Homo sapiens: one gene and its partner. The protein of the gene in region 1 purifies or fractionates together with the protein of each later gene. This does not show direct contact. Each region holds a gene or a part of one and is shown on either strand. Other genes may lie near its edges.

The links. The genes of interacting proteins can lie anywhere in the genome.
Region 2: the proteins of OIP5 (region 1) and CYTH3 purify together in Homo sapiens (affinity purification with mass spectrometry; 4 studies listed by BioGRID and IntAct, with this or other methods). This does not show direct contact.

What each region holds. Positions count from the first base shown.
Region 1 is NC_000015.10:41,328,818-41,334,435, reverse strand, and holds the start of OIP5 (protein Mis18-beta), read left to right. Parts: upstream 1-1,844; 5' UTR 1,845-1,874; coding exon 1,875-2,196; intron 2,197-2,454; coding exon 2,455-2,521; intron 2,522-5,618. Other genes in the region: NUSAP1 (nucleolar and spindle-associated protein 1), read right to left, coding at 1,386-1,478. UniProt on the Homo sapiens protein: Required for recruitment of CENPA to centromeres and normal chromosome segregation during mitosis.
Region 2 is NC_000007.14:6,164,625-6,168,124, forward strand, and holds part of CYTH3 (cytohesin-3), read right to left. Parts: intron 1,187-3,500; coding exon 1,110-1,186; intron 993-1,109; coding exon 921-992; intron 804-920; coding exon 649-803; intron 393-648; coding exon 320-392; 3' UTR 1-319. UniProt on the Homo sapiens protein: Promotes guanine-nucleotide exchange on ARF1 and ARF6. Promotes the activation of ARF factors through replacement of GDP with GTP. Plays a role in the epithelial polarization.

The sequences.
Region 1 (5,618 bases):
TATTTTGTTTAAACAATTTAGGTCGGGTGGGGTGGCTCACGCCTGTAATCCCAGTACTTTGGGGGCTGAGGCGGGCGGATCAGGAAGTCAGGAGTTCGAGACCAGCCTGACCAACATGGTGAAACCCCATCTCTACTAAAAATACAAAAATTAGCCAGGCGTGGTGACACGCGCCTGTAATCCCAGCTACTCAGGAGGCTGAGGCAGGAGAATCGCTTGAACCCAGGAGGCGGAGGTTGCGGTGAGCCGAGATGGCGCCACTGCACTCCAGCCTGGGCGACAGAGCAAGACTCCGTCTCAAAGAAAAAACAAACAAACAAACAAATAAAAAAAAAATTGTGACGATTGATTTAAGCATTTACTCACTGTCAGTATCACAGCCTGCAGGAGAAACCTCCAGAGTATATAGCAGTATTATGTGGGAAGTCTCAACTATTAACAAAATATATAAAACCGCTATCCTACATTAAATCCCCAAATCTTCTTCTAACATCTTGGGTTTTTTGTTTGTTTTTGTTTTGTTTGAGACTGAGTCTCTCTCTGTCACCGAAGTTGGAGTGCAGTGGTGCGATCTTGGCTCACTGCCACCTCGGCTTCCCAGGTTCAAGCGATTCTTCTGCCTCAGCCTCCCAAGTAGCTGGGATCACAGGCAAAAAGCTTGGATCACAGGCGTGTGCCACCACGCCCGGCTAATTTTTTAAGGGCCAGGCTGGTCTCGAACTCCTGACCTCAGGTGATCCGCCTGCCTCGACCTCCCAAAGTGCTGGGATTACAGGCGTGAGCCACAGCGCCGGGCCAACTCTCCAAACATCTTGTAGCCTCGGAGTCAAAGACCTTACTGGTTTTGATAGAGACCATCAACCCAACAGTCATCAATAAAAATTTACCCAAGGAGGTGCTCCCCTAAAAGTCGATTTTTTTTTTCTGACAGGTCCATCAATAAAGTATCAAGAGATTATCGGCAATATTACAAATCACTGGAGTCTGTTTGGGGTTTTCCAGAAGCTGAGCCAATTATTTACTTAATTGTCTAACGATTAACGACACCCCTTGTGCTTTCTGGGCCTGAGTTTCGTAATCGACGCCCTGAGAGGTATACAGTAATTTCAAAACAAAACAAAACAAAAAACAATAAACCATCCCTCGGAATAGAGCTTATCATGTGAGCACCCAGACAAGCCAGCTTCAAAATGAGGTGAAAACTACAGTTCCTCTTCCGTTTATCAGAGTTCTAACTGGGACTACCGTGAACCACATCTACTGCCCGAGGGGCAGGGAGAGCTGCCTCAGTCCCGGGCTTCCCTCTCGGTCCCTTCGCACCGCATCTCCCCGAGGCCGCTATTCCCGCCGCGCCCGCCCAGGGACCCGCACCGCCAGCGCCGTACCCTCAGGTTGGCCCGGAGACCCAGACTCTTGGCTAAGTTCTGCAGGTCACTGTACTTGAGGGAGTCCAGCTCCTCTAGAGAGGGGATGATCATCGCGATTCGAAATCCCGGCGATACTCGGAAGATGGATCACCAAACTTCGTCAGCGCGGTTCAAATCCCTGGCGCCACTCTTAACTTTGACTAGGCAGAAATTTATAGACAGTTTAAATGAAGAATGCCGCGCTTCCATTGGTTGAAAATGCCTCAAAGGCGGGGTTTCTAACCCTGACCAATAGAAAGGCTGATTTCCCGTCCCAACAGAGGCGCGCTTTTTTCACACTTCACGAATACGCAGGCGCCAAAGGGCCTGTAACGCCTGTTCAGGTAACGAGTGCGCGGACTCGGACTCCAGTGCTTGGATTGCCCATGATGTCCAATGAGGACGCAGGAGCTGTGCTTGGGGCGGGGCCTGGCGTGTATTCGAAAGGAAGGCGCCGGCTGCGGGAAGATGGCGGCTCAGCCGCTGCGGCATCGCTCACGTTGTGCAACGCCGCCCCGGGGGGACTTTTGTGGTGGCACTGAGAGGGCGATTGACCAAGCTTCTTTTACGACCTCCATGGAGTGGGATACGCAGGTGGTGAAGGGGTCCTCGCCGCTCGGCCCCGCAGGGCTGGGGGCTGAGGAGCCAGCCGCCGGCCCGCAGCTGCCGTCTTGGCTGCAGCCTGAGAGGTGCGCTGTGTTCCAGTGCGCACAGTGTCACGCAGTGCTCGCCGACTCGGTGCACCTCGCCTGGGACCTGTCGCGGTCCCTCGGGGCCGTGGTCTTCTCCAGTGAGTGCAGTGAAGCGTTCGGGAAAGGCAGAGGCTAGCCCGAGAGGGTGTTCCCGCTTTCTCCACCGGGTGGCGGAGAACCACCTGGGGAAGAAAACGGGATGAAAAGTTGGAAGCAAATAACTCCTTGGCCTGGGGATGGGGCAGGGAATCGGGGAGTCTCCTGATATTTACGGCCAGGATGAGTCTGTCTAGAGGAGAGATTTTCCATTTCAAGGCCCGCAGAGTATGGGTTCTGACCCGTGTTTGTCTTCCTAGGAGTTACAAATAACGTCGTTTTGGAAGCGCCCTTCCTAGTTGGCATTGAAGGTTCACTCAAAGGCAGGTACGTATTGATAATTACATTGGTCTCTAGTCCCTGACTTTATGAGACTGAGGATCGTGGAACTGACATGTACGAGGAGAAAACAGTTTGGGATGCTGCTTTTACCTGTTTGACTCTTATATGAACTTGATGTATTAATGAAATGAAAAAGTTGTATTTGTGTATTGGTTTTAGGATCTTCCTGAGGGCCACTTCTCCCAGGTGGCTTGTACAAGTGAAGTGAGGCTAAGAAAGATGTATCTAGTAGTGGACAAAAGAAAAAAATAACCTTTTGGTTTACAGTGAGAATAACATACTATAAACTACAATCCTTTTAGATATTAGAACTTTTTGATACAGGGTCTTGCTCTCGCCCAGGCTGGAGTGCACTGGTGCGCTCATAGCTCACTACAGCCCCTACCTTCCTGGCTCAAGCTATCCTCCCAACCTCACCCTCCGGAGTAGCTGGGACTACAGGCACACAGCACCACTCCCGGCTAATTTTTAAATTTTTTGTAGAGGCCTTAGTATGTTGCCCACGCTTGATATTAGAACTTTTAAGTTTGCGATTATGGTTAGTTTGTAATAAGCTATGCCAGGGCTAATTCTTCAGTAACCCCAGAAACTGGAGAAAAACACAACTAGAATGTTATGTACTTGAATACTGCCTGGTAAACTTTGCGACCTGCCTGTACTATGATTTACAAGTGACAATAAAGTAGTCAGTGAATTTGGTATTGCAAGGCTCCTCAATTTTGAGTTTTGGCTTTAACATTGAGACAATTCATTTCATTCTGACCAGTTTGATTCAACGTTACGGTTAAAATATAGGAATTCTTAGTTGCTTTGTCCAGTAACCAGGAAGATTTCTGCAGCTTGGACAAACTTCAAAAACGGAGTTAGACCCACAGCTCCCTTTCTTTTTCCTGAATAAAAGACACTCCCTATCGCTATAGGAGTCCCCTTCCCACCCAAAGGGGACAAAGCAAGAAGGAGCAATTGCCTGCTTGGAATTGGGTGTATTCTGGGGCCAGAGGCAGAAGGTTCCTGAATGTGCTCTTGGAGAGGAGGCTAATGAATCTAGACCCGTGCTGTCCTATACTGTAATCACTAGTCATATGTAGCTATTATATATTATTAAATCTGCATTGAGATATGCTGTGAACACAGAATACACACTGGATTTCAAAGACTTAGTACAGAAAAATTAATCATTTACAAATACTGATTACGGGCCGGGCGTGGTGGCTCACACCTGTAATCACAGCACTTTGGGAGGCCGAGGCGGGCGGATCACAAGGTCAGGAAATCGAGACCATCCTGACTAACACGGTGAAACCGTGTCTCTACTAAAAATACAAAAAATTAGCCAGGCATAGTGGCGGGCGCCTGTAGTCCCAGCTACTCAGGAGACTGAGGCAGGAGAATGGCGTGAACCCGGGAGGCGGAGCTTGCAGTGACCGAGATTGCGCCACTGCATTCCAGCCTGGGCGACAGACTCCGTATCAAAAAAAAAAAAAAAAAAATACTGATTACGGCTGGGAGCGGTGGCTTACGCCTATAATCCCAGCACTTTTGGGAGGCCATGACAGGCAGATCACCAGAGGTCGGGAGTTCGAGACCAGCCTGACCAAAATGGAGAAACCCTGTCTCTACTAAAAATACAAAATTAGCCGGGCATGGTGGCACATGCCTGTAATCCCAGCTAGGCTGTAATCCCAGGAGGCTGAGGAGGGAGAATCGCTTGAACCCGGGAGGTGGAGGTTGTGGTGAGCCGAGTTCACGCCATTGCACTCCAGCCTGGGCAACGAGAGCGAAACTCTGTCTTAAAAAAAAAAATTGATTACATGGTGAAATGACATTTTTGATATATTGGGTTAAATAAAATATTTAAAAACTAATTTCACCTGTTTTTATTTTATTTTTTAAAGCAAAATTAGGCCAGGCGCCGTGGCTGATGCATGTAATCCCAGCACTTTGGGAGGCCAAGGCGGATGGATCACGAGGTCAGGAGTTCAAGACCAGCCTAGCCAAGATAGTGAAACTGTTTCTACTAGAAATACAAAAATTAGCTGGGCGTGGTGGCGGGCGCCTGTAATCCCAGCTACTTGGGAGACTGAGGCAGAGAATTGCTTGAATCTGGTAGGCGGGGGTTGCAGTGAGCCAAGATCATCCCACTGTACTCCAGCCTGGGCAACAGAGCGAGACTCTTCCTCAAAAAAAAAAGCAAAATGAATAGAAAATTTAAAATTACATATGTGACTCACATTATATTCCTATTAGACAATGCTTGTTTAGATGCTTTGTAAAAAACTGGAGGAAGGCCAGGTGCAGTGGCTTACACCTATAATCCCAGCACTTTGGGAGGCCAAGGCAGGCAGATCACAAGGTCGGGAGTTCGGGACCAGCCTGGCCAGTATGGTGAAACCACGTCTCTACTAAAAGTACAAAAATTAGGGGGGCGAGGTGGCAAGCGCCTATAGTCCCAGCTACTTGGGAGGCTGAGGCAGGAGAATGGCTTGAACCTGGGAAGCAGAGGTTGCAGTGAGCCAAGATCGCACCACTACACTCCAGCCTGGACGACAGATCGAGACTCCGTCTGAAAAAAAAAAAAAAAAAAAACTAGAGGGAAAGCCCCATGTGTTTCTGTATTTGTGGAGTAAGATGAGCTATATGGGACTTACGAAGAGGGTTATGAAATGGCACAGCTCAAGACAACTTGATTTTTTTCTAAGTGTAGGTTCATTACCTAGATGGGGTCAGAGAATGAATTAAGAGGATGATTAATGATGCAGCTAAAAGAGCATAAATTTTAGAGACAGCAGACTCGGGTTCTTTTTATTCTTTTTTTTTTTTTTTTTTTTTTTTTTTTGAGATGGAGTCTTGCTCTGACCCAGGCTGGAGCACAGTGGCGGGATCTTGGCTCGCTGCAACCTCCGCCTCCCGGGTTCAAGCTATTCTCCTACCTCAGCCTCCCGAGTAGCTGGGATTCCAGGCGCACGCCACTATGCCTGGCTAATTTTTGTATTTTTATATTTTTAGTAGAGACGGGGTTTCACCATGTTGGCCATGCTGGTCTCGAACTTCTGACCTTGTGATCCACCTGCCTCAGCCTCCC
Region 2 (3,500 bases), on another chromosome or scaffold:
GCGCCGGGATGGTCGCAGGAAGGAAATGCTTCTGGACATGCGCAGCCGACCATGACCCCAGCCACGGCAGGAGGCCTCGAGGATCAGTCTGGGCCACGGTACGCTCTGGAGCAGCAGCTTGCACTGCAGGGCGACCACCTCCCAGGACCCCAGCCACGGCACGAGGCCTTGGGGATACCACCTGGGCCACGGTATGCTCTGGAGCAGCAGCTTGCACCGCAGGGCGACTGCCTCCCTGCCACGCCTTCCGCGGAGGGGCCGCCCGCGGTGTCTTTCTGCTGGGGTTGGGTCTTTTACCTGGGTCTTTTAGCCAGGAAAGCTATTTTTTATTGGCAATCCTTCGTTTCCTCGTTGCCAACATGTCATAGAAGGGATCTCTGCTGATACTGGCTCTGGTGAAAAAAGGAAAACACACAGGTTAGGTCGTGGGTGACACACAGACCTCCCCTTTCCCACCAGCCCCAGAGGCCCCTCAGACAGGACCGCAGGCTCAGATCTGAACGTCGGCTTTGGCAGCCCGGCCCTCTGGGGTTTCTGGAGACAGAAGGTCCACTCTTGCACACGGAAGCATCCATGTTCCAGACCATCCCCCGCCCTCCAACCGGCACGAGAAGACGGGCCTGGCCCCGCCCCCGAGGCCCCACTCACTTGATGGATTTCATCCACTCCTCCTTCTCCTCCGGGCTCGGGGCTGAGATCCGGTACACCACATGGTTCCCCTCTACCACGCGGCCGTCGGCCTCAGTCTTACAGGCCTTGATGACCTGCCCTTTGTGGCTGGGATTGTAGAGCTCAAAACAGTTCTGGTGGAGAAAGAGAGAGGGGAGGCGGTCAGGGGGGCTTGGGGCAGGTTCCCTGCAGGCAGTGAGGATGGCTCCCAGGTGGCTGGCAGGAGAGAAGGTTCAGGAGGAAGAGCTTACGGGTTTCCGGGGGTCCTCCACCTCCCTGATGCTGAGGTTTTCCAACGGGATGATTCCCCTGGGCTCCTTATCCTACAAGAGGAAAGTACACGGCGGGGCTCACTGTGGGTCACCAGCCTGAGGGTCCCTCGGCCCCAGGGCAGCTCCGGGACTGCTGGGAGGCGGCAAGGAGGCCTGGCCCTTACTTACTGTTGTGTATTCAAAGTAATAGAGGCAGTTATCGGTCAGGATGAACCACCGGCGCTTCCAGGTCTTCACACGCCCTCCTAGAAGCAGAAGGGCCCCGTGAGTCTGCGCTCCGTGCACAGGGAGCCCGCGGGTCCAAGAGGGGGCCCTGGACCTGCACAGACCACTGCGTTTTCAGAAAGGCCACCAGGCGCCAGGCTTGGGTTCAGGTGTCCTTCAGCGTTCCCACCGCAGGGCCCCACATGCACCCACCCCGCCCACACCGGCGCCCCCTCCACGGCACTGATGGGCCCCTTGATGACACAACCGCGCTACAATTCGCTTCCTGGGAGAGTTAGTGGGATGGATGGCGTCATTTTCCCACATGAGATGGCAGTGTGATGAAGTCAGGACTGCGCGCCTGGCTCTGTCCAGGACCTGACCCCACCATGTCAGGTGGTTATCGCATTACAGAGGCCCTTGGGCAGCCCTGGGATCCATCAAAATCAGTCACCCCTGGGCCCAAGGAATCGTGAGACTGAATTAATTTTGTAACAAGATCTGGAGCACACGTGCACACGCACGTACCCCCATCTGTACCTGCCCTCCTCTCCCTAAGGGAAGGAAATCTCTGATCCTTAAACACTGAGCAGAGACAAACTGACTTCAGCTGCTATAGCCTTGCCGGTGTTTGTTTTTTAAATAATTCAAAGAAATACACGCTGGTGACAATGAACTCAAGTGCTCCCTGGGGTACTAGGCCCTCTCTGCCCCATGCCTCTCCAGCGCTGCGGAGCTCACCCGGCTTTCTCTGTGACAGGCCGGCAGGGGAGTAGCCCTCCCTCCCTAAGTGGGGGCCAGCACGGGCGCTGAGGCCTGGAGGCAAGACTGTGTGCGAAGGGCTCTGTGGATGGATCACCAGGACACAGGGGGCTTTCCCTGTTGGGGCCTGGTTTGCAGAGACCCTGGGTGAGGAGGAACCAGCTGCAGGTGGGAGGAAGCCTGGCTCAGCGGAACTGGAGGCCGGAAGCGGGTCTCTGCAGTCCCTCTGGGACCCTCTGGCCCCTGCCTCACTCAGTGCTGCCGTCCTCCTTTGATGCCTAAGGCAGCCTGCAATGCGGTTGCCACCGCCAGCCTGGAACAGGAGCCCAGCCTCCAGCTGTTCCTCCTCTCCCCACAGGCCCCAGTCTCATCAGTGTCCCACCAGCCTACCTGTTAAAGGGTCTGTCTAGACCCTGGTCTGGGCAAATCTGCCCCCAAGCTCTCTGCTGCATCTCCCCAGCCCTCAGACCCTGCCCCCAACATCTCTCCTGAGCCCTGGCGGGGCTTCCACTCCCCGAACCCCTGCAAGCTGCTCCGTCACTGGAACCCTCTGCCCCAACTGTGGCACCGCCTCACTGGTCCCCTTTAAGACCCAGCCAGGCCCACAGCAAGGCCCAAAGTCCTTGTTGCCCTCGTGTCCCTGTCTCACCGCGGGCTCCATGCTCTCTGCAAGCCCTTGGCCTTCACCTTCCCCACCTCCACTGCAGCACACCAGGGAGGCCCAAGTCCACAGGGGAGGGCAGGAGACCCTGGGGGCAACCTGCCTTGTCCCACAGTCCTCCAGTGAGCAGTGAGAGGTGTTCTATGTCCCCGAGACCCTAGGGACAGGAGGACAGTGCTGATTCCTTCCAGGCACTTGCTCCAGCTTGAACTGCTGTGGCAGAATCAGCTGACAGCAACTCCACTACCCTGACATCCGTCACTGTCACGGTCGCCTCTGCTTCCCTCCAGAGACTCCAGAGCAGGCCCCGCTCCAGCTGCACTGGTGCCAGCTGCCATCCCCCAAACAGCGGCCAAAGGCATCTTTTCAAAAACGTGGCAATCATGCCCCTCCGGCTTGAAGCCCCCCAAAGGGTCCCACTGCACTCAGCTTTAAACCCAACTCCTTGGGCGGCAGCAGGGGCTGCCCTTCCTGGCTCCCCAGCTGTGGCCTTTCTCCCTGCCCTGTTATCTGAGTCTCCAGTTCTTGGGGAGCTCATCCAGGAGCCCCCAGGTTGTGTGTTTCTGTCCAGCGCCTGCTCTCTTCCTCCACGCTCCCAGCATGGTGGACAGCAAAGGACCTGTATGTTCCACTAGCCCACACACCTGGCCCCGCCTGGGAGGGGTCTGCCAGGTGGCCTCTCAGCTCCACCTTGGGTCCCCCGCTCACACCTCCCATGCAGAGCCCCATCCCTGTCCAGTCCTCAGGGCCAGGGGGTCGTTGCAGACCAGGACTGCAGGCCCAGGGAAGGGGTGATAAGCTTGGTCTCAGAGCCGAGCAGGCTCTGCTCACACTTGTTTCTGGCCACACCACACAGCATTCTCGCCTGCAGACAAGAGCCTGGCTTCTGGAACCTGCAGATGGGAGCCACTTTCTCTCTGTAAGTTTCTGTC